3 separate regions of the Homo sapiens genome follow, and regions 2 and 3 are each linked to region 1. The links come from fine-mapping of genetic effects on gene expression. A gene starts in region 1. Each other region holds a variant in brackets. All regions are shown on one strand. Distances are from middle to middle. Region 1 holds the start of GIMAP6 (GTPase, IMAP family member 6). Region 2 has its middle 22 kb from the start of GIMAP6. Region 3 has its middle 19 kb from the start of GIMAP4.

Region 1 (8,187 bases):
ACAAAGCCAATGACAAAAACCACATGATTATATCAATAGATGCAGAAAAGGCATTCGATAAAATTCAACACCCTTTCATATTAGAAACACTCAATAAACTAGGTATTAATGGAACATATCTCAAAATAATGAGAGCTATTTATGACAAACCCATAGCCAATATCATACTGAATGGGCGAAAGCTGGAAGCATTCTCTTTGAAAACTGGCACAAGACAAGGATACCCTCTCTCGCCATACCTATTCACATAGTATTGGAAGTTCTGACCAGAGCAATCAGGCAAGAGAAAGAAATAAATGGTATTCACATAGGGAGAGAGGAAGTCAAATTGTCTCTGCAGATGAAATGATTGTATATTTAGAAAACCCCTCATCTCAGCCCCAAAACTCCTTAAGCTAATAAAAAAACTTCAGCAAAATCTCAGGATACAAAATCAATGTACAAAAATTACAAACATTCCTATACACTAATAATAGACAAGCAGAAAGCCAAATCGTGAGTGAACTCCCATTCACAATTGCTATGAAGAAAATTAAATACCTAGGAAACAAGTTACAAGGGATGTGAATGACCTTTTCAGGGAGAACAACTACAAACCACTGCTCAAGGAAATAAGAGAGGACACAAACAAATGGAAAAACATTCCATGCTCATGGATAGGAAGAATCGATATTGTGAAAATGGCCATACTGCCTAAAGTAATTTGTAGATTCAATGCTATTTCCATTAAGCTACCATTGACTTTCTTCACCGACCTAGAAAAAACTACTTTAAATTTCATGTGGAACCAAAAAAAGAGCCTGCATAGCCAAGAGAATCCTAAGCAAAAAGAACAAAGTTCTGTAGACTTGTAGTACAGCATCACGCTACCTGACTTCAAAGTATACTACAAGTCTACAGTAACTAAAACAGCATGGTACTGATACCAACACAGATATATAGACCAATGGAACAGAACAGAAGCCTCAGAAATAACACCACACATCTACAACCATCTGATCTTCAACAAACCTGACCAAAACAAGCAATGGGGAAAGGATTCCCTATTTAATAAATGGTAGTGGGAAAACTGGCTAGCCATATGCAGAAAACTGAAACTGGACTCCTTCCTTACACCTTATACAAAAATTAACTCAAGATGTATTAAAGACTTAAACCTAAAACCTAAAATCATAAAAACCCTAGAAGAAAACCTAGGCATTATCATTCAGGACATAGGCATGAAAAAAGACTTCATGACTAAAACACCAAAAGCAATGGCAACAAAAGACAAAATTGACAAATGGGATCTGATTAAACTAAAGAGCTTCTGCACAGCAAAAGAAACTATGATCAGAGTGAACAGGCAACCTACAGAATGGGAAAAAATTTTTGCAATCTATCCATCTGACAAAGGGCTAATATCCAGAATCTACAAAGAACTTAAACAAATTTACAAGAAAAAACAAACAACCCCATCAAAAAGTGAGTGAAGGATATGAACAGACACTTCTCAAAACAAGACATTTATGCAGCCAAAAAACATATGAAAACAAGGTCATCATCACTGATCATTAGAGAAATGCAAATGAAAACCACAATGAGATACCATCTTACGCCAGTTAGAATGGTGATCATTAAAAGGTCAGGAAACAACAGATGCTGGAGAGGATGTAGAGAAATAGGAACGCTTTTACACTGTTGGTGGGAGTGTAAATTAGTTCAACCATTGTGGAAGACAGTGTGGCGATTCCTCAAGGATCTAGAGCTAGAAATACCATTTGACCCAGCAATCCCATTACTGGGTATATACCCAAAGGATTATAAATCATTCTACTATAAAGACACATGCACACCTATGTTTATTGTGGCACTGTTCACAATAGAAAAGACTTGGAATGAACCCAAATGCCCATCAATGATAGACGGGATAAAGAAAATGTGGTGCATATACACCATGGAATACTATGCAGCCATAAAAAAGAATGAGCTCATGTCCTTTGCCGGGACATGGATGACGCTGGAAACCATCATTCTCAGCAAATTAACAAAAGAACAGAAAACCAAACACTGCCTGTTCTCACTCAGGTGGGAATCAAACAATGAGAACACATGGAACAGGGAGGGGAACATCACACACCGGGGCCTGTTGTGGAATGGGGGACTGGGGGAGGGATAGCATTAGGAGAAATACCTAATGTAGAGGATGGGTTGATGGGTGCAGCAAACCACAATGGCACGTGTATACCTATGTAACAAATCTGCACGTTCTGCACATGTACCCCAGAACTTAAAGTATAATAATAATAAAAAAAGAAACAAGATCATAACAGAGATTGTGAATTACATTCTTTGTAAATATGCTGTGTTAGCATAGAGAAGTCCTCCCTCAACAAAACAATGGACTACATTATTTGGCTTGCAGGAAGTGAGGGATAACACCATGTGGGCAAAATTTTTTTAAATAACCAAATAAATACATAAGTAAATAAATAAATAAACTGAAACAGGAGTAGAGCCATAAACTCAAAGGGAAGATTGGTTGCCCCAAGAGCAAATGAAGCTCTCAGCCATACTCTCTGGAGCCTAAATTTGGAATCAGTTGTAAAGTGAGTTGTAGATTGAGGAATTTCTGGATTAAGCCAGAAATCTGAAAATGGGGTTGAAGTGGTCTCAGTTTAGTAGTACCAGCACCCCCTTGTCAGTTCCTGATAAAAATGTACACAAATCTTCTCTGGAGTAAAGCCACCTTGATTTCAATCCCAAGGATTTCCATACTTAAGTTCACAATCAAAGACTGTGAATGTAATTCCAGAAAAGAAATCACCAAAAGTGAGAGTCAGCAAAAAATAAAAAACAAACCAAAAGAACCAACATCAGATTTATATGCTGTATCAATTAGATTAGGCCAGATTACCTTGCAGTAACAAACACTTCCCAATTCTCATGGCTAAACGCTGAGCTGATTGATCCCTGGCTCAGTCAACTGCAGGTCTGGGCAACTCTCCAGAGTCAGCTTGCAGAAGATGGAAATGATTAAAATTCAAAATAGATGGTTAATTTCAATTATGGGTGGAGTAATAACATTCTAAATACTTTCTAAACACTTAGGCAATGGAATGGTAAAGATCAACACATGACTTTTAAGAATTAATTAAGTGGCTGGGCGTGGTGGCTCACACCTGTAATCCCAGAACTTTGGGAGGCCGAGGTGGGCAGATCATGAGGTCAGGTGATCGAGACCATCCTGGCTAACACAGTGAAACCCCATCTCTACTAAAAATACAAAAAATTAGCTGGGCGTGGTGGTGGGCACCTGGAGTCCCAGCTACTCAGGAGGCTGAGGCAGGAGAATGGCGTGAACCCAGGAGGTGGAACTTGCAGTGAGCCAAGACCGCACCACTGCACTCCAACCTGGGCGACAGAGCGAGACTCCGTCTCGAGAAAAAAAAAAAAAAAAGAATTAATCATGTTACACCAGGCGCGGTGGCTCACGCCCATAATCCCAACACTCTGGGAGGCCGAGGTGGGCAGATAACTTGAGGTCAGGAGTTTGAGACCAACCTGGCCAACATGGTAAAACCCCGTCTGTATTAAAAATACAAAATATTAGCCGGGTGTGCGGACGCCTGTAATTCCAGCTATTTGGGAGGCTGAGGCATGAGAATCGCTTGAACCTGGGAGGATGAGGTTGCAGTGAACTGAGATCACACCACTGCACTCCAGCCTGGGTGACAGGATGACATTCTGTCTCAAAAAAAAAAAATTAATTGTGTCAGGGTATTTACAGAATAATTTAAGTAGAACATTAAAAGATATATATATGTACACACACACATACTATGTAACAATTTTAATAAATACACCATGATTATCAACCAGAACAGAACCAAAGAAAATTAGAACTATTATAGTAGATTGAGTGGAATTTTTTTAGGGAATCTTAACATTTTAAAATCATGTGGTAACAATATCATCACCTATGCTCCTATGTTCTGAATTTCTTCCTTCAATGGCTTCCCTTTAGCCACAGTTATCAGATCTGTCAGTAAAGTCCTAGAAAACATGTTTTTGAGGATGCTGAGGTGTTTTCTCCCTTGGCCTGTGTTTAAAATATTGTTCTTCCCCCATAACAAGTGCTCTCTTTAATCCTACATTTTAGACATTCTTTTGTATTTTCCCTTTTCTTATAGTGCAGATCTTCTAGAAGCTGTAACAATTGTAATTACCAATGATTCATGCCTTAGAGGTAATGAGTGTCAGACCTTGTCCTGAGAGAAACTATTAAAGGAAGGAGAGGTTGGGGAAGAAAGGAGACAATGACTGTTTGCCCCAATACTGAGGCATAGAAGTTCCCTGGGGAAGAGGTGGGGTTCAGAAAAGAGAGATCAGGGAAAGTCACTCCTCCTGACACAAATCTTTCTGAGGCATCTGCCTCTTTTTAAGCTCTGAGTTCTAGTTATCCTGGCTCAGGATAAAAATAATCCCACCACTGGTATCCTCCCTTTTTCTACTTCCGAGGCTGCAAAGTGCAACAGCAGACTCTTCTGACTCAGGAAGGCCGGTGCTCCTACCCACTTCCTGTTCCTCCATCTCCAGCGGACACTGCTCTTTCAAGGGCAGGTCTCCAGCCCAGCTCTCTGAAAACATTTTGCTGAAAATATAAGCAAACATCGGCCTTGTCCTCCTTGTGTTCATACACTGTGGAAGCTTTTCTCTGCCTCCTCCGTGAGAGTGCGTGGCCGGGAGACCAGAAACGTGGTCCTTTCTCTTGCCTGTGAGCTGGTGCAGAGGTAAGTCTGAGTATTTGTGCGTGTCATATTTGGATGTGTATGTGTGGGTGTTTGTGTTGTACATGTGTGTTTACATGTTTGTATGTGTTAACATGAATGTGTGTGAGTGATGTTTGTGTGTGTGATGTTTGTGTTGTGTGTGTATGTGAGTGTTGTGTGTGTGTTGTGTATGTATATTTGTGTTTGTGTATGTGTTTGTGTGTTCACCTGCATGTGTGTGAGTGGTACATGTGTTTTGTGTATGTGTGTGTGTTGTGTATTTGTGTGTGCTGTGGTGTGTGCAGGTTTGTAATGTGATAAAAAGAGCTGTGACCAACACGTCTGGAGAACTTTTTGCCTTGTGACAAAGTCACTGTTTAATATTTGGCAAGATGCTTCTCTGAGTTTTGCTTTCTTCCAGAGCAATATGACAAGGATGGTACTATCTGTTCCATCTTCTGTGTTGGAGACAATGCACACTGTGGCCAACATGGGAGGTGCCATTCCGGGGAGGGTCTAGGAGGAGGCAGGGAGGTGCCTTGCGTGCAGACCCATTCCCCGAACCCTGCGAAGGCACAGTGCAGGTTCCTGCATGCCACAGCCTAGTCCCACCCGGCTGTTGTTTCCTGTTAAGCTGCCTGCCCGTTCTCTCTAAAGGAGGAATGAGATTACATTGGTAAAGTGCTGCCTCAATTTCCACCAGGGATGTAAGGAAGCCAGGGACAAAGAGATTGAGAGGCCACCAGTTAGGAAGAACTAACTCCCTTTGGTAGGTGAAATATTGTACTCCTTCCAGAATCTGGCTGTTCAGGTCTGAGTAAGGCTGTCCGCCTGGCCTGCTTCTTCTTTCTTCCTAGAAAGTCAACAGACCTTCCTGGACTCCCTCCATGCCCAGCCCAGCACTGCAAAATTGATCTTTACCAATCATAAAGCAATATCCGCATATATACTTCTGGGATCTGGGGAGGACTGGAGTGTTTGCCAGGTGAACAGAATAGAACAAACATCTAACAATGTGGCAATGAGAAAAACATGTCTATCAGGTTCCCCTGGACTTAGGTTTCCCCACACCCCAGACCCTTCATCTGGATCTGTTTCATCTGGTTGTGAATGTCCTACATGATCTGGAAAAACAGTCATGGACCATGCAACTTCCTCCTCAGTCCCACAGAGAAAATCCAGCAGAGAGAACCTTATGGGATCTTGGCACAGAGAACTGTGTTAGTCTATGAAGCCAGGACACATTGCTGTCATGGGAAAGGGGACAGGAGTTCCTGGTTGGGAATGATGTGGCCCTAATTTGCAAAAAGGACTAAGAATTGCTCTAAAAAATGTTATGAAGTATGTTGAGACCTTAATAGGGGAAGAGACATTCACAGGCATCTAGTTCAGGCCCAACATTCTTACTGATGGGATGCTGAGGCCCAGACAGAGCTAACTGGTGGCTGCTTCTCCCCTGAGGTCTCTGGCTTCCTTCCCAGCTCAGCCCCTGCAATCCCAGTCCTCTGTAACCCTCACTGCACAGTCTTCTCCAAAGTCTGGCCCCAAGGCCCACCAAGTGGCCCCTCCCAACAACATCCTACTCATTCACGTCCTCCAGGCACACCAGGCCTTCCTGCTGCTCCCAGGGAACACAGGATCAGAATCACACCTGCTTCTGTGCTTCCCTTCCTCCACCTCCTCCTTCTTCCCTTCCTCCACCTCCCCCCACCTCCCAGAACAGTTCCAGACCCTTTGTCTATCCAAATTTCATCCATTCCTCAGCTCCCAGGCCAGTTGCACCTTTATCTGTAAAATCTCTTAAACTTATGATGGAGACCACAATGAAGGGGGCGAGGGATAGCATCCCTAAAGAAATAGGGTCCCTAAAGCCAGCAGAGAGTGTCTTAGACCCCTTCTTCCATTGCCTCACTCAGTCCCACCCCAACCCTAAACTAATGCAAAAAACTTTCCTCTGGCAAGAGAAAGGCGAAAGGCAGGTGGCTGTTGAAACTCATTTGGAAAGTCAGTAGAACATATGATTTTTTTTTTTTTTTTTTTTTTGTAGATGGAGGAAGAAGAATATGAACAAATTCCCCAGGAGAATCCCCCAGAAGAGCTGTCCCAGGATCCTGTGCTGGAGCTGTCAGGAGGTAAAATGAATGAGGAGAGGGGAGCAAGTGGGAAACATTTGGGGTGCAGGTGGGACACAGCTCCACCACCATAGTGTGCTTGGAGAGGAAGCTGACGTCCCCCAGTCACAGAAATTTACCCGCCTCAGCCACCATCAGAGGCCTTTGGGGTAGGGCCCTTCTTATCACTAGCCAAAAATAAGAAAAAAGACCCCTGGATAGGTATGGTAGATAAAAGGAGGCGAGAAATAGCACCAATGACTAAATCACCATGCCAGTCCCAAAGGAAATGCTTTCACATGGTAGATGTTCTTCCTCAGGATGGATGTGCTGACAGTGCGTGTGACGAAAATAAGTGGCCTTGGACTGAGGCTTGGATGCCAACAGACCCTGTATGGGTGTTTGGCTGACTCCGAAGTGGAGCTGTCACAGTTGTAAGTTTGAAAGCGCCTTGTGCACAAGCAGAATGTACTTGGCTGCTGCCTCAGATCTGGGCTCTGCCTTATCGAGGGCGTCCCTTTCCCAAAAGCCATTGCACAGGGTCAGGCGCTTAACTTTCATGGGCTCAACTTCGTCATTCATCCTGGGGAGGCAGGATTTACAAATGCTGGAAACCCAGCCCTTTCCTGGCCAGAAGAAATGATTTGTGATTCATTATGTATTTTAATATGAATGACCTTTTACTTTATGAACTTAAATGGCCTGAGCCATCTGGAAAAAGCCACGTTAACCTACTACAATAGGGACATTACCAATACCTGTGTAACACCTGTTTGACCTTTTGTTATAGCAATCAAGGTTAGCTATTCTTTTAAGAATCCTCTCCAGAGCTCAAGTGATGCATTTGGCTTTAGTAAAGTCCAGTGGTGTGTGCTAGCTCCAGGCTGCTCAGATGGGGGTTCCTGTCTCCTCTGGCTCTGCACTGGGCTAGGTGGGTGGGGATGAAGATCTACTGCCCAGACTTCTGCCCATTCATTCAAATTCCTTCCAGCCACCTTGGGGAAGCTGGAGGGGGCCCAATGTCACTCAGTTAGAATTGGCACGTGGGTCAGAGCCAAGGGTGGCTGTCAGGCCACAGCAAGGCCTGTTGGTGCCCAGGAGATTCAGGAGATGGCCACGCCCATGCTGCCACATGCCAGCTTCATGCTTTGTCATCTGAGATACATCAATGTCTTCAGTGGGGACAAGACTGGGAAACCAGCTATTACTTGTCACTTCTTTATGTGCTCTGGGTCTTGGGACCCGCAAGGCCAGGAGAAGGGAATTCCCTTCCTGCCTTCTTCCCCAGTCATATCTAAAAACCTTGGTATTGGGTTTCTTGGTGT
Region 2 (8,187 bases), 22 kb after region 1:
CTTTGTGCAGTTGCTGTGGTTTTGAGTTTCTCTGGGATAGCTTGTATTTTGCCAGCAAATGAAAGCTTTGGACCTCTGCAGACGTCACTTGGAGGAGCAGTCAAAGACATCTTCAGGTTCATGGTCATATTCATTATGGTGTTTGTGGCCTTTATGATTGGAATGTTCAACCTCTACTCCTACTACATTGGTGCAAAACAAAATGAAGCCTTCACAACGTTGAAGAGAGTTTTAAGACAATGTTCTGGGCTATATTTGGACTTTCTGAAGTGAAATCAGTGATCATCAACTATAACCACAAATTCATTGAAAACATTGGTTATGTTCTTTATGGAGTCTGTAATGTTACAATGGTCATTGTTTTGCTAAATATGTTAATTGCCATGATCAACAATTCGTTCCAGGAAATTGAGGATGATGCTGATGTGGGTCATAAAAAAGGTTTCCAGGAAGATGTAGAGATAAGTAAGTAGAGATAGACATAAATAGAGATATACATAAATAGAGATAGAGATAAATAGAGACAGAGATAGACATAACTAGAGATAGAGATAGAGGTAAATAGAGATAGAGATAAGTAAGTAGAGATAGAGATAAGTAGAGATAGGTAGGAAAATACAGGGACTTGCAGGAACTCACAGGAAATAACAGGTACCATAGGGACAGACAGGGACAGATACGGATAGATGAAGACCAGCAATATAAGGTCAGTACCCTAAAGAGGTATTGGTCAGTGCCCTAAAGAGGTACTGGTCAGTGAGGTACAAAAGCAAAGACTAGCAATATAAGGTTAGTGCCTTAAAGAGGTACTGGTCAGTGCCCTAAAGAGGTACAAAGGTAGAGACTAGCAAAGACAAGCAGAGATTTGCAGGGACAGACAAGAACATTCTGAATTATGGAAATTAGCTATGGCTCAAAGTCCAATCAAAATCTGAGAGGGCAAATATAAAAGGAATAGAGGGGAAGGAGGTAAGGATGAAAATGCTCTTTCTTTTCTCTCCAGCAGGACCTTTTGGATTCAAAGTCGTGCTAGCAATAGGAAATGTTACTCTTGATATAATACACACTTTATTACATGCCCTGATTGTTGCTTGTTTACCTGCATTAATTCAACCTTTGATGAAAATATAACTATCTTGATAATTAAAGCCAGGGAAGGAGTTTGATCCCTCTGTCTCTAAATAGACTATGGGAAACATCACCAAGTATTTATATTGTAACTGAGATCCTTAAAAAACTCTTATCCCGTTCCAAAAGATTTATAGTTGAAGGCCATTGGAGGCTCTACATTGTGGGTTTCTTTCTGGTTGTTGTGTGCTTGTGCTGTCTCCTTTTAGTCTGCAGATGCAGAAGCTGCCTCTGAAGAGGAAACCGCCTCTGAAGAGAAAGCTGCCATCAAGAACAAGCAATGATAGCTGTGGTGGTTTTATGAAAAAGAAAAGGGGGGTATGTTGGGAAAAGCTGAGTGTTGGGAAAAACTGAGGCAGGGCTTGCATGTCTGACATAATGTAAAAAAGTCTTGGAACCTGTCCAGGGTCCGGGGTCTGAAACCTCTCTTGGCCTTTGGAACACCAAGCTCTGTGCTAAAGGGTGGAAGGCTACCCTGATGCACCATAATCTAAGCCCAGGGGATAAAACCCCTCATGGCTTGGATAGAATCCAGGGCTCAGGGCATAAAACCCCTCATGGCCTCTGGAATGTGTCTAGATGCTGGCTCCTTGCTTCTTGCTCTCCCAGGATCGATTGTATCTTGAGTTAGAAGAACCTTCTCTCCATTATCTCAAGTAGCAGAGCATATGCTAAACCATCACAGCTGTAAATCATGTGCTTAATGCAATACTCCCTTTCAACCCCACATTCTCACCACCTGTTTCTTTGTTTGATCACCAATAAATAGTCTGGGCTTCCAGAGCTTGGGACCTTCGCAGCCTCCATACTCACGTTGGACCCCTGGGCCCACTTTCTCTCTCAAACGTCTTTTCTCATTCCTTTGACTCTGCCAGACTTCGTCACCCCCATGACCTGGTGTTGGGTCCAATCACCCCAACACATGAGCTGCTCCCACTTCCTAGATGAATAGGATACCTCAGTTGGAAATGCAGAAATCACTGGTCTTCTGCATTGGTCTTGCTGGGAGCTGCAGACCAGAGCTGTTCCTATTCGGCCATCTTGTCAGATCTCCCTGGAGGTCTTTATCTTAAGTGAAATAAGCCAAGCACAAGAAGAACAATATCACATGTGGGAGTTAAAATATCATATGTGGGAGTTGAAATATCATATGTGGGAGTTGAAAGATTCGATCACATGGAAGTAGAAAAGAGTGAAAAGATAGCAGAGACTGAGAAAGTAGAGGGTGGATGAAGAGAATTGTGTTAAAGGGGACAAACATAAAATTAGATAGAAGTAATAAGTTCAGTGTTTGATGGCAGAGTAGGGTGACTATAGTTAAACAAAAATATACTGTATTTGTGTGATGGACACCCTAAATACCCTTCACTGTGCATTATGTACATGTAACAAAAATTCACATGTTCCCTATAAATTTGTACAAATAAAAAACTGTGAAAGAAGATTCTGCTTATAGTGATAAAGATGTTTCTATGTTAACAAATTAGAAATTATTGCCTCCAATTTAAAGGATCTTAAGAAACAAATATAAATCTTTCATCAGACAAGTCCCACCTTCTCCATTAATGTTTTTTATTATACTTTAAGTTTTAGGGTACATGTGCACAACGTGCAGGTTTGTTACATATGTATACATGTGTCACGTTGGTGTGCTGCACCCATTAACTCGTCATTTAGCATTAGGTATATCTCCTAATGCTATCCCTCCCCTCTCCCCCCACCCCACAACAGGCCCCAGTGTGTGATGTTCCCCTTCCTGTGTCCATGTGTTCTCATTGTTCAATTCCCATCTATGAGTGAGAACATGCGGTGTTTGGTTTTTTGTCCTTGTGATAGTTTGCTGAGAATGATGGTTTCCAGTTTCATCCATGTCCCTACAAAGGGCATGAACTCATCATTTTTTATGGCTGCATAGTATTCCATGGAGTATATGTGCCACATTTTCTTAATCAGTCTATCATTGTTGGACATTTGAGTTGGTTCCAAAGTCTTTGCTATTGTGAATAGTGCCACAATAAACATATGTGTGCATGTGTCTTTATAGCAGCATGATGTCTTTATAGCAGCAGGATTATCCAATATCCCTGATGAACATCGATGCAAAAATCCTCAATAAAATACTGGCAAACCGAATCCAGCAGCACATCAAAAAGCTTATCCACCATGATCAAGTGGGCTTCATCCCTGGGATGCAAGGCTGGTTCAACATACACAAATCATAAAATGTAATCCAGCATATAAACAGAACCAACGACCTAAACCACATGATTACCTCAATAGATGCAGAAAAGGCCTTTGATAAAATTCAAAAACCCTTCTTGCTAAAAACTCTCAATAAATTAAGTATTGATGGGACATATCTCAAAATAATAAGAGCTATCTATGACAAACCCACAGCCAATATCATACTGAATGGGCATTGATTTCTTTAGTGGATTAAATTTGACTCCTGGGAATCTTTGCTCAGAGGAATTTTTCAATTCTTGGCTATTATTCTCCTTATAGTTATTGTGTTTACCTCCTGGTGCATTACATTCTATCAAGGGTTTTTATTCTTTCCAGTGGCCACTCACATGTCAAAAGATTGCCCTTAGGATCAGCCAACTCAAGGAAACGAATATGGACCAAGTAATTGTTCACAGTAGCTTTGTAACTCTGAACCCCAGCATAACGATTAATGATGACAACAACATCTTCCTGACTTTTCTTTCCAAGGACTACATCAACATTGGTAACTGAGAGTAATGCTATGCCATTTGGTCACACTGTCAGCTTGCTGAAGAAATAACTAAAAAGGGAAAATTCTTAAAGCACAATTAAAATGGAGACCGGGCCTAAACATTGCTGAGCAAACAAAACCAATGGAAAATTAAAAATAGCCTTAACATTGCTTAAACTGCAAACAGAAGCAAAATTTTAACTTGGGTC[A/T]TTTCTGGTAAATGCTTATGTTGAACAGAAATGAAACTTAGTCTCAGCCAATCATAAGCAGCTGACTAATATATGTTCATGAGTTTAGGGATTTCCAACAACATAAACCAAAAAAGATGATATTATAGCTGCAAACAATCAAATACTGTATTTATTTTGCATCCACATTCATCCTACAAATCTTTGCCTCTGATTCTTTGTCATTGAAACACTAACCCTCTTTTGGTTTTGTGTTTCCCAATTCATGAATTGCTTGTTACTCAAATAAACACTATATATCTGATTGTGCCTCAGTTTACCATTTTAAATAATCTATCTGACCTCTTTGTGGAAACATTTCCTTCTCAAAAAAGATACCTAATTGGTGCCAGGTATACCCAGGACAAAGTAGTTTAGATCTTGTATTTTAACTACTTGCTGTCTGTCTCCTACAGTTGTGGCTGATGAAGAACACTTCCTTGTTCATCATTGGATTCCAACGTCCTGGAGTGCGTTAAGCACTCACTAAATGCTTCTCACCCATTTAGTAGCTGATTTTGATTTTGTATCCTGAGACTTTGCTGAAGTTGCCTATCAGCTTAAGGAGATTTTGGGCTGAGACGATGGGGTTTTCTAGATATACAATCATGTCATCTGCAAACAGGGACAATTTGACTTCCTCTTTTCCTAATTGAATACCCTTTATTTTCTTCTCCTGCCTGATTGCCCTGGCCAGAACTTCCAACATTATGTTGAATAGGAGTGGTGAGAGAGGGCATCCCTGTCTTGTGCCAGTTTTCAAAGGGAATGCTTCCAGTTTGCCCACTCAGTATGATGTTGGCTGTGGGTTTGTCATAGATAGCTCTTATTATTTTGAGATACATCCTATCAATACCTAATTTATTGAGAGTTTTTAGGATGAAGCATTGTTGAATTTTGTCAAAGGCCTTTTCTGCATCTATTGAGATAATCATGTGGTTTTTGTCTTTGGTTCTGTTTATATGCTGGATTATGTTTATAGATTTTCATATGCTGAACCAGCCTTGCATCCCAGGGATGAAGCCCAATTGATCATGGTGGATAAGCTTTTTGATGTGCTGCTGGATTCGGTTTGCCAGTATTTTATTGAGGATTTTTGCATCAATGTTCATCAAGGATATTGGCCTAAAATTCCCTTTTTTTGTTGTGTCTCTGCCAGGCTTTGGTATCAGGATGATGCTGGCCTCATAAAATGAGTTAGGGAGGATTCCCTCTTTTTCTATTGATTGGAATAGTTTCAGAAGGAATGGTACCAGCTCCTTCTTTTACCTCTGGTAGAATTCCGCTGTGAATCCATCCGGTCCTGGACTTTTTTTGGTTGGTAAATTATTAATTATTGCCTCAATTTCAGAGCCTGTTATTGGTCTATTGAGAGATTCAACTTCTTCCTGGTTTAGTCTTGGGAGGGTGTATGTGTCGAGGAATTTATCCATTTCTTCTAGATTTTCTAGTTTATTTGCGTAGAGGTGTTTATAGTATTCTCTGATGGTAGTTTGTATTTCTGTGGGATCGGTGGTGATATCCCCTTTATCATTTTTTATTGCATCTATTTGATTCTTCTCTCTTTTCTTCTTTATTAGTCTTGCTAGCGGTCTATCAATTTTCTTGATCTTTTCAAAAAACCAGCTCCTGGATTCCTTGATTTTGCTGAAAGGTTTTTTGTGTCTCTATTTCCTTCATTTCTGCCCTGATCTTAGTTATTTCTTGCCTTCTGCTAGCTTTTGAATGTGTTTGCTCTTGCTTCTCTAGTTCTTTTAATTGTGGTGTTAAGGTGTCAATTTTAGATCTTTCCTGCTTTCTCTTGTGGGCATTTAGTGCTATAAATTTCCCTCTACACAGTGCTTTGAATGTGTCCCAGAGATTCTGGTATATTGTGTCTTTGTTCTCATTGGTTTCAAAGAACAACTTTATTTCTGCCCTCATTTCGTTATTTACCCAGTAGTCATTCAGGAGCAGGTTGTTCAGTTTCCATGTATTTGAGCAGTTTTGAGTGAGATTCTTAATCCTGAGTTCTAGTTTGATTGTACTGTGGTCTGAGAGACAGTTTGTTATAATTTCTGTTCTTTTACATTTGCTGAGGAGGGCTTTACTTCCAACTATGTGGTCAATTTTGGAATAGGTGTGGTGTGGTGCTGAAAAGAATGTATATTCTGTTGATTTGGGATGGAGAGTTCTGTAGATGTCTATTAGGTCCACTTGGTGCAGAACTGAGTTCAATTCCTGGATATCCTTGTTAACTTTCTGTCTCATTGATCTGTCTAGTGTTGACAGTGGGGTGTTGAAGTCTCCAATTATTATTGTGTGGGAGTCTAAGTCTCTTTGTAGGTCACTAAGGACTTGCTTTATGATTCTGGGTGCTCCTGTATTGGGTGCATATATATTTAGGATAATTAGCTCTTCTTGTTGAATTGATCCCTTTACCCTTATGTAATGATCTTCTTTGTCACTTTTGATCTGTGTTGGTTTAAAGTCTGTTTTATCAGAGACTAGGATTGCCAATCCTGCCTTTTTTTGTTTTCCATTTGCTTGGTAGATCTTCCTCCATCCCTTTATTTGGAGCCTATGTGTGTCTCTGCATGTGAGATGGGTTTCCTGAATACAGCACACTGATGGGTCTTGACTCTATATCCAATTTGCCAGTCTGTGACTTTCAATTGGAGCATTTAGCCCATTTACATTTAAGGTTAATATTGTTATGTGTGAATTTGATCCTGTCATTGTGATGTTAGCTGGTTATTTTGCACGTTAGTTGATGCAGTTTTTTCCTAGCCTTGATGGTCTTTACAATTTGGCATGTTTTTGCAGTGGCTGGTACTGGTTGTTCCTTTCCATGTTTCGTGCTCCCTTCAGGAGTTCTTTTAGGGCAGGCCTGGTGGTGACAAAATCTCTCAGCATTTGCTTGTCTGTAAAGTATTTTATTTCTCCTTCACTTATGAAGCTTATTTTGGCTGGATATGGAATTCTGGGTTGAAAATTCTTTTCTTTAAGAGTGTTGAATATTGTCCCCCACTCTCTTCTGGCTTGTAGAGTTTCTGCCGAGAGATCAGCTGTTAGTCTGATGAGCTTCCCTTTGTGGGTATCCCGACCTTTCTGTCTGGCTGTCCTTAACATTTTTTCCTTCATTTCAACTTTGATGAATCTGACAATTATGTGTCTTGGAGTTGCTCTTCTCGAGGAGTGTCTTTGTGGCATTCTCTGTATTTCCTGAATTTGAATGTTGGCCTGCCTTGCTGGATTGGGGAAGTTCTCCTGGATATTATCCTGCAGAGTGTTTTCCAACTTGGTTCCATTCTCCCCGTCACTTTCAGGTATACCAATCAGACGTAGATTTGGTCTTTTCACATAGTCCCATACTTCTTGGGGGCTTTGTTCATTTTTTTTAATGCTTTTTTCTCTAAACTTCCCTTCTCACTTCATTTCATTCATTTCATCTTCCATCACCGATACCCTTTCTTCCAATTGATTGAATCAGCTACTGAGGCTTGTGCATTCATCACGTAGTTCTCATGCCTTGGTTTTCAGCTCCAACAGGTCCTTTAAGGACTTCTCTGCATTGGTTATTCTAGTTAGCCATTCACCTAATTTTTTTTCAAGGTTTTTAACTTTTTTGCCATGTGTTGGAACTTCCTCCTTTAGCTCGGTGTAGTTTGATCATCTGAAGTCCTCTTCTCTCAACTTGTCAAAGTCATTCTCCATCCAGCTTTGTTCTGTTGCTGGTGAGGAGCTACGTTCCTATGGAGGAGAAGAGGTGCTCTGATTTTTAGAGTTTCCAGTTTTTCTGCTCTGTTTTTTCCCCATCTTTATGGTTTTATCTACCTTTTGTCTTTGATGATGGTGACGTACAGATGGGTTTTTGGTGTGGATGTCCTTTCTGTTTGTTAGTTTTCCTTCTAACAGTCAGGACCCTCAGCTGCAGGTCTATTGGAGTTTGCTGGAGGTCCACTCCAGACCCTGTTTGCCTGGGTATCAGCAGTGGTGGCTGCAAAACAGCAGATATTGGTGAACCCCAAATGCTGCTTCCTGATCATTCCTCTGGAAGTTTTGTTTCAGAGGAGTACCCGGCCGTGTGAGGCATCAGTTCACCCCTACTGGGGGGTGCCTCCCAGTTGGCCT
Region 3 (8,187 bases), 46 kb after region 1:
GAATTCAATACCCCTTCATGCTAAAAACTGTCAATAAACTTGGTACTGATGGAATGTATCTCAAAATAATAAGAGCTACTTATGACAAACCCACTGCCAATATCATACTGAATAGGCAGAAGTTGGAAGCATTCCCTTTGAAAACCAGCACAAGACAAACCTGCCCTCTCTCACCACTCCTATTCAACATAGTATTGGAAGTTCTGGCCAGGGCAATCAGGCTAGAGAAAGAAATAAAGAGTATTCAAAAACAGGAAGAGAGGAAGTCAAATTGTCTCTGTTTGCAGATGACATGATTGTATATTTAAAAAACCCCATTCTCAGCCCAAAATCTCCTTAAGCTGATAAGCAACTTTAGCAAAGTCTCAGGTTACAAAATCAATGTGCAAAAATCACAAGCATTCCTATACACCAATAATAGACAAACAGAGAGCCAAATAATGAGTGAACTCCTATTCACAATTGCTACAGAGAGAAAAAAATACCTAGGAGTACAACTTACAAGGGATGTGAAGGACCTCTTCAAGGAGAACTACAAACCACTGCTCAAGGAAATAAGAGAGGACACAAACAAATGGAAAAACTTTCCACACTCATGGATAGAAAGAATCAATATCATGAAAATGGCCATACTGCCTAAAGTAATTTATAGATTCAATGCTATCTCCATTAAGCTACCATTGTCTTTATTCACAGAATTAGAAAAAACTACTTTAAATTTCATATGGAACCAAAAAAGAGCCCATATAGCCAAGACAATCCTAAGCAAAAAGAACAAAGCTGGAGCATCATGCTACCTGACTTCAAACTATACTACAAGGCTACAGTAAATATAACAGCATGATACTGATACTGAAACCGATATATAGACCAATGGAATAGAACAGAGGCCTCAAAGATAATGCCATCCAACTACAACCATCTGGTCTTTGACAAACCTGACAAAAACAAGCAATGGGAAAAGGATTCCCTATTTAATAAATGGTGTTGGGAAAACTGGCTAGCCATATGCAGAAAACAGAAACTGGATGCCTTCCTTACACCTTATATAAAAATTAACTCAAGATGGATTAAAGACTTAAACATAAAACCTAAAACCATAAAAACCCTAGAAGAAAACCTAGGCAATACCATTCAAGACGTAGGCATGGGCAAAGACTTCATGACTAAAACACCAAAAGCAATGGCAACAAAAGCTAAAATTGACAAATGGGGTCTAATTAAACTAAAGAGCTTCTATACAGCAAAAGAAACTATCATCAGAGTGAAGAGGAAACCTACAAAATGGGAGAAAATTTTTGCAATCTATCCATCTGACAAACGGCTAATATCCAAATCTACAAGGAACATAAACAAATTTACAAGAAAAAAACAAACAACCCCATCAAAAAGTGGGTAAACAACATCCACAGACACTTATCAAAAGAAGACATTTATGCGCCAAAAAACATGAAAAAACTCATCATCATTGCTCATTAGAAAAATGCAAATCAAATCCACAATGAGATACCATCTCATAATACTTAGAATGGCCATCATTAAAAAGTCAGCAAACAACAGATGCTGGAGAGGATGTGGAGAAATAGGAACACTTTTTAAAAATATATGTATTTTTTATTAGTATACTTTAAGATCTAGAGTACATGTGCACAACATGCAGGTTTGATACATAGGTACACATGTGCCATGTTGTTTTGCTGCACCCATCAACTCCTCATTTACATTAGGTATTTCTCCTAATGCTATCCCTCCCCCTTCCCCCCACCCCACAACAGGCCCCAGTGTGTGATGTTCCCCACCCTGTGTCCATGTGTTCTCATTGTTCAATTCCCACCTATGAGTGAGAACATGTGGTGTTTGGTTTTCTGTCCTGGTGATAGTTTGCTGAGAATGATGGTTTCCAGCTTCATCCATGTCCCTACAAAGGACATGAACTCATCCTTTTTTATGGCTGCATAGTATTCCATGGTGTATAGGGGCCACATTTTCTTAATCCAGTCTATCACTGATGGACATTTGGGTTGGTTCCAAGTCTTTGCTATTGTGAATAGTGCCACAATAAACATATGTGTGCATGTGCATTTATAGTAGAATAATTTATAATCCTTTGGGTATATATACCCAGTAATGGGATGGCTGGGTCGAATGGTAATTCTAGTTCTAGATCCTTGAGGAATTGCCACACTGTCTTCCACAATGGTCAAACTAATTTATACGCCCACCAACAGTGTAAAAGTGTAGAAATAGTAACGCTTTTTCATTTTTATAGTAGAATGATATATAATCCCTTGGGTGTATACCCAAGAGTGGGAGTGTAAATTAGTTCAACCATTGTGGAAGATAGTGTGGCAATTCCTCAAGGATCTAGAACCAGAAATACCATTTGACCCAGCAATCCCATTACTGGGTATAAACCCAAAGGGTTATATATCATTCTACTATAAAGACACATGCACACATATGTTTATTGCAGCACTATTCACAATAGCAATGACTTGGAACCAACCCAAATGCCCATCAATGGTAGACTGGATAAAGAAAATGTGGCACATACATACCATGGAATACTATGCAGCCATTAAAAAAGATGAGCTCATGTCCTTTGCAGGGACAAGGATGAAGCTGGAAACCATCATTCTCAGCAAACTAACACAGGAACAGAAAACCAAACACTGCATGTTCTCACTCATAAGTGAGAGTTGAACAATGAGAACACATAGACACAGGAAGAGGAACATCACACACCGGGGCCTGTTGTGGGGTGGGGGGCTGAGGGAGGGACAGCATTAGGAGAAATACCTAATATAGATGACGGGTTGATGGGTGTAGCAAACCACCATGGCACGTGTATACCTATGTAACAAACCTGTACGTTCTGCACACGTATCCAGAACTTAGAGTATAATTTTTTTAAAAAGAATAAAATATTGGAAAGCAACATAGAGTGATGAAAACCAGACAAAAAGTAAAGGTGTTTAGATCCTCAAAATGAGGAACTACACGTGGCCACAGCCACATTAGAAAGACTGTTACTCTGAAAGTACTCCCCAGACCAAGGTTCAAGGGATGGGTAGAACTCTGATATCTAATATATCTATTTCCTGAGCCAACATCTGGAGAGACAAAACTCAGGATACACATCTGACTGCTTTATTTTTCTGCATTCCCCTCTGGCTCTTTTCCCCTAGAAGAGGATGTGGGTTTCCATATCTTATTACCTAGACTTCTGTATAAAACGCTAGTGTCTAGTAACCTGGAAACCTGGGCCTTGACATGGAAATTGGAGAAATGATAAAATGCAGACAATCCATTCTGAAGAAAGTACTCAGGCTAACATGGCTGAAAAAATTCTATTAAT[G/A]TTTTTGAATGTTGGCAGCTGATTTTTCTATATGTCTATGAAGCAAATATTGCATTCTCAAAGAACCTCTAGCATTAGCATGCATTTAAGCTTGTTAAAATACAAACTTTCTGAGGAAGTAGGTGTAGAGTGGAACCTGGGAATTGGCATTCCTAACACCTAATGTTCAAGGCATTTCCCCTATTTCCAACATTCCTAGTAAATGACAGGGTGCCAAAGACCCTTCTCCCCTGCAGGATTCCGAAGGACATAGAACACACAAAGAACTCAATCAAATCAGGCAAAATACCGTCTTTTTACCAGAAGGATATGACTTTCTAATAAAGATGGAGTAGAGACCAGAGCTGGGACCAGAGCTCAAAGTAAGTGTCTTAATCCTCCTACTGGAACAGAAGGGAGTTATTCCCCATCCTGGGCCACCTGACAACCACAGAGTGACAGCCCCAGGAGAGAAAACCAACAGAATCTGACCCAGGCAGAGCTGCCAGAAGGAGACCTTCATTGGTGACTGTAGAGTGGAAAGAGAAAGCAAAAATGAAGGTCATGTCTGGTCACCACAGGGCAAAGGGGAAAGGACAGTCTGTTTCTTGTTTTTGGAAAGTTAAAACAATAGTAGGAAGTGCTCCAGTGGGTGTCAGGCTCTCTAACATCCTGGAATTGATCAGTCATCTGCATTCCTGAGAAGATGACAATTTATTAAGCAACTCCAGAGTTGTTTCCTCCTGGGTGTAGAGGGATAAACAGTTTCTCTTTCCAAGCCAGAGGGAGGAGAGTGAGCTTGGTATAGAAATGCCCAGTGCTGTCTTTGGTACCTTCCCCTGTAACTCAAAATCTCTAGGAAAGCTGCTGAAGCTTACATAATGCTGATCACTATTATGATGGTGGAAACTAGGCAGAAAACTGAACTTCAAGTGAATGAACTGCAAGTGCATGAAATGGGGTAAGACAGAGGACAGTGGCACACGCAGGAGGAAGTAGGGGAAGGATGAGGAAGTGAGTGCAGAAAGCTCCCTGCAGGAGGGAGTTTGGATTCTGTGTGCTGTGGAAATGCAGCTTGAGCCAAGTTTTACCATTCTCCAAGGGCAAGGGGGATGTACCACTGCCAAATGGGTGAAAAATATTTAACGAGTGCTTCACACACTCCAGGATATTGGAATCCAATGGTGAATAAGGAAGTGTTCTTCATCAGCCATAACTGTAGGAGACAGATAGCAAGTAGTCAAAATACAAGATCAAAACTACTTTGTCCTGGGTATACCCAGCATCAATGAGCATAAGTGTCTTGAATGGGCTAGGAAACATTTCCCACAAAAAGGTCAGATAGATGATGAATGCTGCTCTATGAATGCTTCAGCAGTGCCAAATCATCTTGTGGCTGACTGCCATGGTTATTACTTGAGACTGTCACTATGACAGTTACTACTGTTACTACTTGAGACCGTCATTACAAGACTGAATGAAGGGACGAACATAGAAATGAAAACTTAAGACAAAAGAAACCATTTTAAAGGAAAGGGAACTGGGGAAGAAGAAAAGGGCTCCCTGCTTCTAGTGAGCAAAGGCCGCCCCTGAGCTTCTACCACGCTTCGTATTTATTGGGTAGAATGACCAGGGAGCAGAAGGTAATGATTGGTCAGCTGCTTAATTGAACACAGGTTCACATTATTACTAACAGGCTTCAGATGTACCTAATCACAACAAACATTGCACTTGGCCGTCACTGCCCTCAGTATCCCTTCTGGGTGGAAGACACAGTTTGTCGGTCTGCCAACATTCTGCATTTGAGAAACAGTTTGCTGCCTACTCATATAGCCTCCAGTGGTATGCTGAATTGACCACGACCCTCAATCTTTTGTCCTCCAACATTTCTCCCTTTTTGTTTTTGAATTAATTGAATAAGGCAATTGCAAAATGTGCAGCCTTCAATTGCTGGTTGGTGGTTCGTTCGTCTTCACATTCAGATTCAACTGGCTCATGGCTCACACTGGGGGAACCAGGCCTGTGGCTGGGATCCATGGTTCCCTCCAATCTCCTGTTCCATGGTTGTACACACCTTGAGGGCACCCACATGGTTTGTTCATTTGCTGTGAAAACACAAGCATACCCTCGCCCCCACGTTAGTAAATCTAGCAAAGCAGAAGCAAAAAGTTTTTGTGGCTGTAGCCGGGAGGCATGCCGTTGCTGAAGCGTCTGCTCTGCAACCTGTAACTCAGCTTCTGTCTCTTTGGTTAATTACCGCAGGGTAAAACTTTCCATTGATAATGAGAGGCTGGCTCTTTCTGATTAACAGAAGGCACACAGAGAGCAAATCGAGGCTTATCCTTCTCCAGTCTCTCATTCCATCACCACCCAAAGAGAGCAGCCCAGGGAGCAGTGTGTGAGGGTGAACATTAGAAACATGAAAAGGAGCAGCATGAGAGTGAACAGCTTGTTGAAGTCCCAGAAACAAGTGAAACGGCCCTGGTTTGAATGCCTCTGACATATCTCCCCCTTTACAAGAGGACCCTTAATCCTAAGGGTTGCAGAGGGATGAAGATCTGTCTTCTGTAACTTCTTCAGGCTGAATAGGGGTGATGATATTCCTGCCTAACTATTAGGGTCTCTGTTTCTGCTTCAGAAGATAGTACAGGTGTCTCTACTACTGAAAAGGGCAGTACAGGCCAATTCTCATCCTCCCTCTCCTGCCCTCCACCCCCGGTGGGTTCAACGTGCAGGGCAAAAGACTCCTTTAAACCTTGAGACACAAAACACGAACCGCCCATCCAGTCTGAGACATGACAGAATCTCAGCACTCTGTTGAACACTTTGAGCTGTTCCTACTCCCACTAGGGATGTAGAAGATAGTTTTAGGGACCGAGATAGGGGCCAATTGTTTTTAGATATTACTGACACACTGACACATCAGCTCCTATATCCATAAGCCCATAAAACTTCTTTCCTTTGATTTGCACTGTATAGGTGGGTCTATTAGATGCCACGGGTTGTGATAGGTAAGTCTCTCTCCCAGTTGCACTTCCAAATCCCTGACCTCCTCACTTCTTCTTATGTAGAGAGGGGTACAATTTATAGGGAATAAGCAACAGTTGAGCAATATATTCTCCTGGTTCAAAAACCCAAAGATCTTGTGACGTTACCACTGCTTGAATTTCTCCTTCACAATCCCAATTACCAACTCCTGGGCCTGTAAGTTAAGACAGCTTTTGCCCAAAATTAATCCCATGTATCCTGTTGGCAAAGGTCCACAAATGCCAATGGGAATCTTAGTGAGTTTGTTTCTTCCAATTAACGTAACCTGCTCTCTAACTGGGCCATCTAATCCTGCGCTTCCAGGTGTTCCTGGGGAGAGGGAATCAATATGCCTCTGGAAACCAATCCCTGAAATGAAGCTGTTCTCTGGACAGGGAATGCCCTCATTTTTTGAGGTGCCAGGGTCCAGGCCCCCTTCTCACTTCCCAAGAGGGGGCTGCCATTTTGATGAAACTTTGAGTGGCATTGATTAACTCAATGATTCCCTTTATTGCAATGAGGGCCAAGTCCTGGCATTTTTTCTGTTAAGAGGGGAACTGTGTTACAAGATCCCTTTTGCCCAGAGGTCTGGCAGTGTTCTTTTTTGAAATGTCCAATTTTTCTACACTTATAACACTTTCCCACATTAGGGCTTGACCCTTGGCTTCTTTTAGATCTGTCAGCTACCAAATTAGCCATTGTCTGAGTCAATACTGCAGAGCAATGAAGCTCAGTTCCCACATCCCGACAAGCTCCGAGAAAACCTCCCAAGTTCTCTGCACATCTCACAGGTGCCAATGCAGGTTTACAATCCCAGAAAGCCAAAGCTAAAGTTAGCCTTTCTGTAGCCACAAAGGAAGATGGTACAAGCCAATTTCCATTCTCCCTCTCCTGTTCACTACTTTTGATAGGTGCTGTAGGTGGGGCAAAAAATTCCCTAAAACCCTGAAATAACAAAAAGATAGTACGTACCGAACTCCAAACAAAAGAGCGAAGAAATAGCCAAATTCTTCCCCATGTTACCCTGATTCAAAAACTTCCCATTCTTTGTACCTCTAGGGCCCTGACCTTATGTTGCTGCAGGCAGACTTGTAACAGGGTTTCTCATTCGTCTGGTTGGTTTTAATTTTTTCTGGGCTTTGGTTTTTTCTGTTCCAGCAGACCTTCCTCATTCAAGTCCCTTTAGGACCCAACTCTCCCTATCTGTCCCAGCAAGTTTTGCTAGTCTTTATCTATCCCTATCTGTCCCTCTCAGTCCCTATAGCCCCTGTTAGTTCCTGCAAGTTCTTGCAAGTCCCTGTCTTTCCCTACCTATCTCTATTTGTCCCTATTTGTCTATTTATCTCCATTTATCCCTCCTTATCTCTATTTGTCCCTGCAGGCCTCTTCAGGTCCCTTCAGGTCTCTTTTTGTCTCTGATAGTCCCTGTTTGTCCCTGTTCAGGTGCCACTTTTGGCTGACTGCCATGGTTATTACTTGAGACTGTCACTATGACAGTTACTACTGTTACTACTTGAAACCATCATCACAAGACGGAATGAAGGGACAAACGTAGAAATGAAAGCTTAAGACAAAAGAAACTTTTATAGGAAGGGGAACTGGGGAAGAAGAATAGCACTCCTCCTTCTAGTGAGCAAAAGCAGCCCCTGAGCTTCTACTGCACTTCGTATTTATTGGGTAGAATGGCCAGAGAGCAGGAGGTAACTACTGGTCCGCTTCTTAATTGATCACAGGTTCATATGATTACTAACAAGCTTCAGATGTACCTAATCACAAGAAACATCGTGCTTGGGGTGTAACTGCCCTCAATATCCCTTCTGGGT

What was found.
Region 2: its variant is fine-mapped to the expression of GIMAP6 in whole blood (INTERVAL, PIP above 0.99).
Region 3: its variant is fine-mapped to the expression of GIMAP6 in whole blood (TOPMed, PIP 0.97).

What each region holds. Positions count from the first base shown.
Region 1 is chr7:150,628,754-150,636,940 of GRCh38, reverse strand. It overlaps GIMAP6 (GTPase, IMAP family member 6), which reads left to right and starts at 4,556. Exons shown (of 3, transcript NM_024711.6): 1 at 4,556-4,772; 2 at 6,799-6,883. The coding sequence starts at 6,799. RefSeq lists enhancers at 4,606-4,695, 4,706-4,795, 5,066-5,145 and silencers at 7,194-7,394, 7,414-7,614.
Region 2 is chr7:150,606,311-150,614,497 of GRCh38, reverse strand. It overlaps the pseudogene TRPC6P3. Among named protein-coding and RNA genes, the nearest start is that of GIMAP6, 22 kb to the left of the region's middle. The variant A/T (reference allele first, on the strand shown) is at 4,057.
Region 3 is chr7:150,582,767-150,590,953 of GRCh38, reverse strand. No RefSeq gene overlaps it. Among named protein-coding and RNA genes, the nearest start is that of GIMAP4, 19 kb to the right of the region's middle. RefSeq lists an enhancer at 4,249-4,428. The variant G/A (reference allele first, on the strand shown) is at 3,359.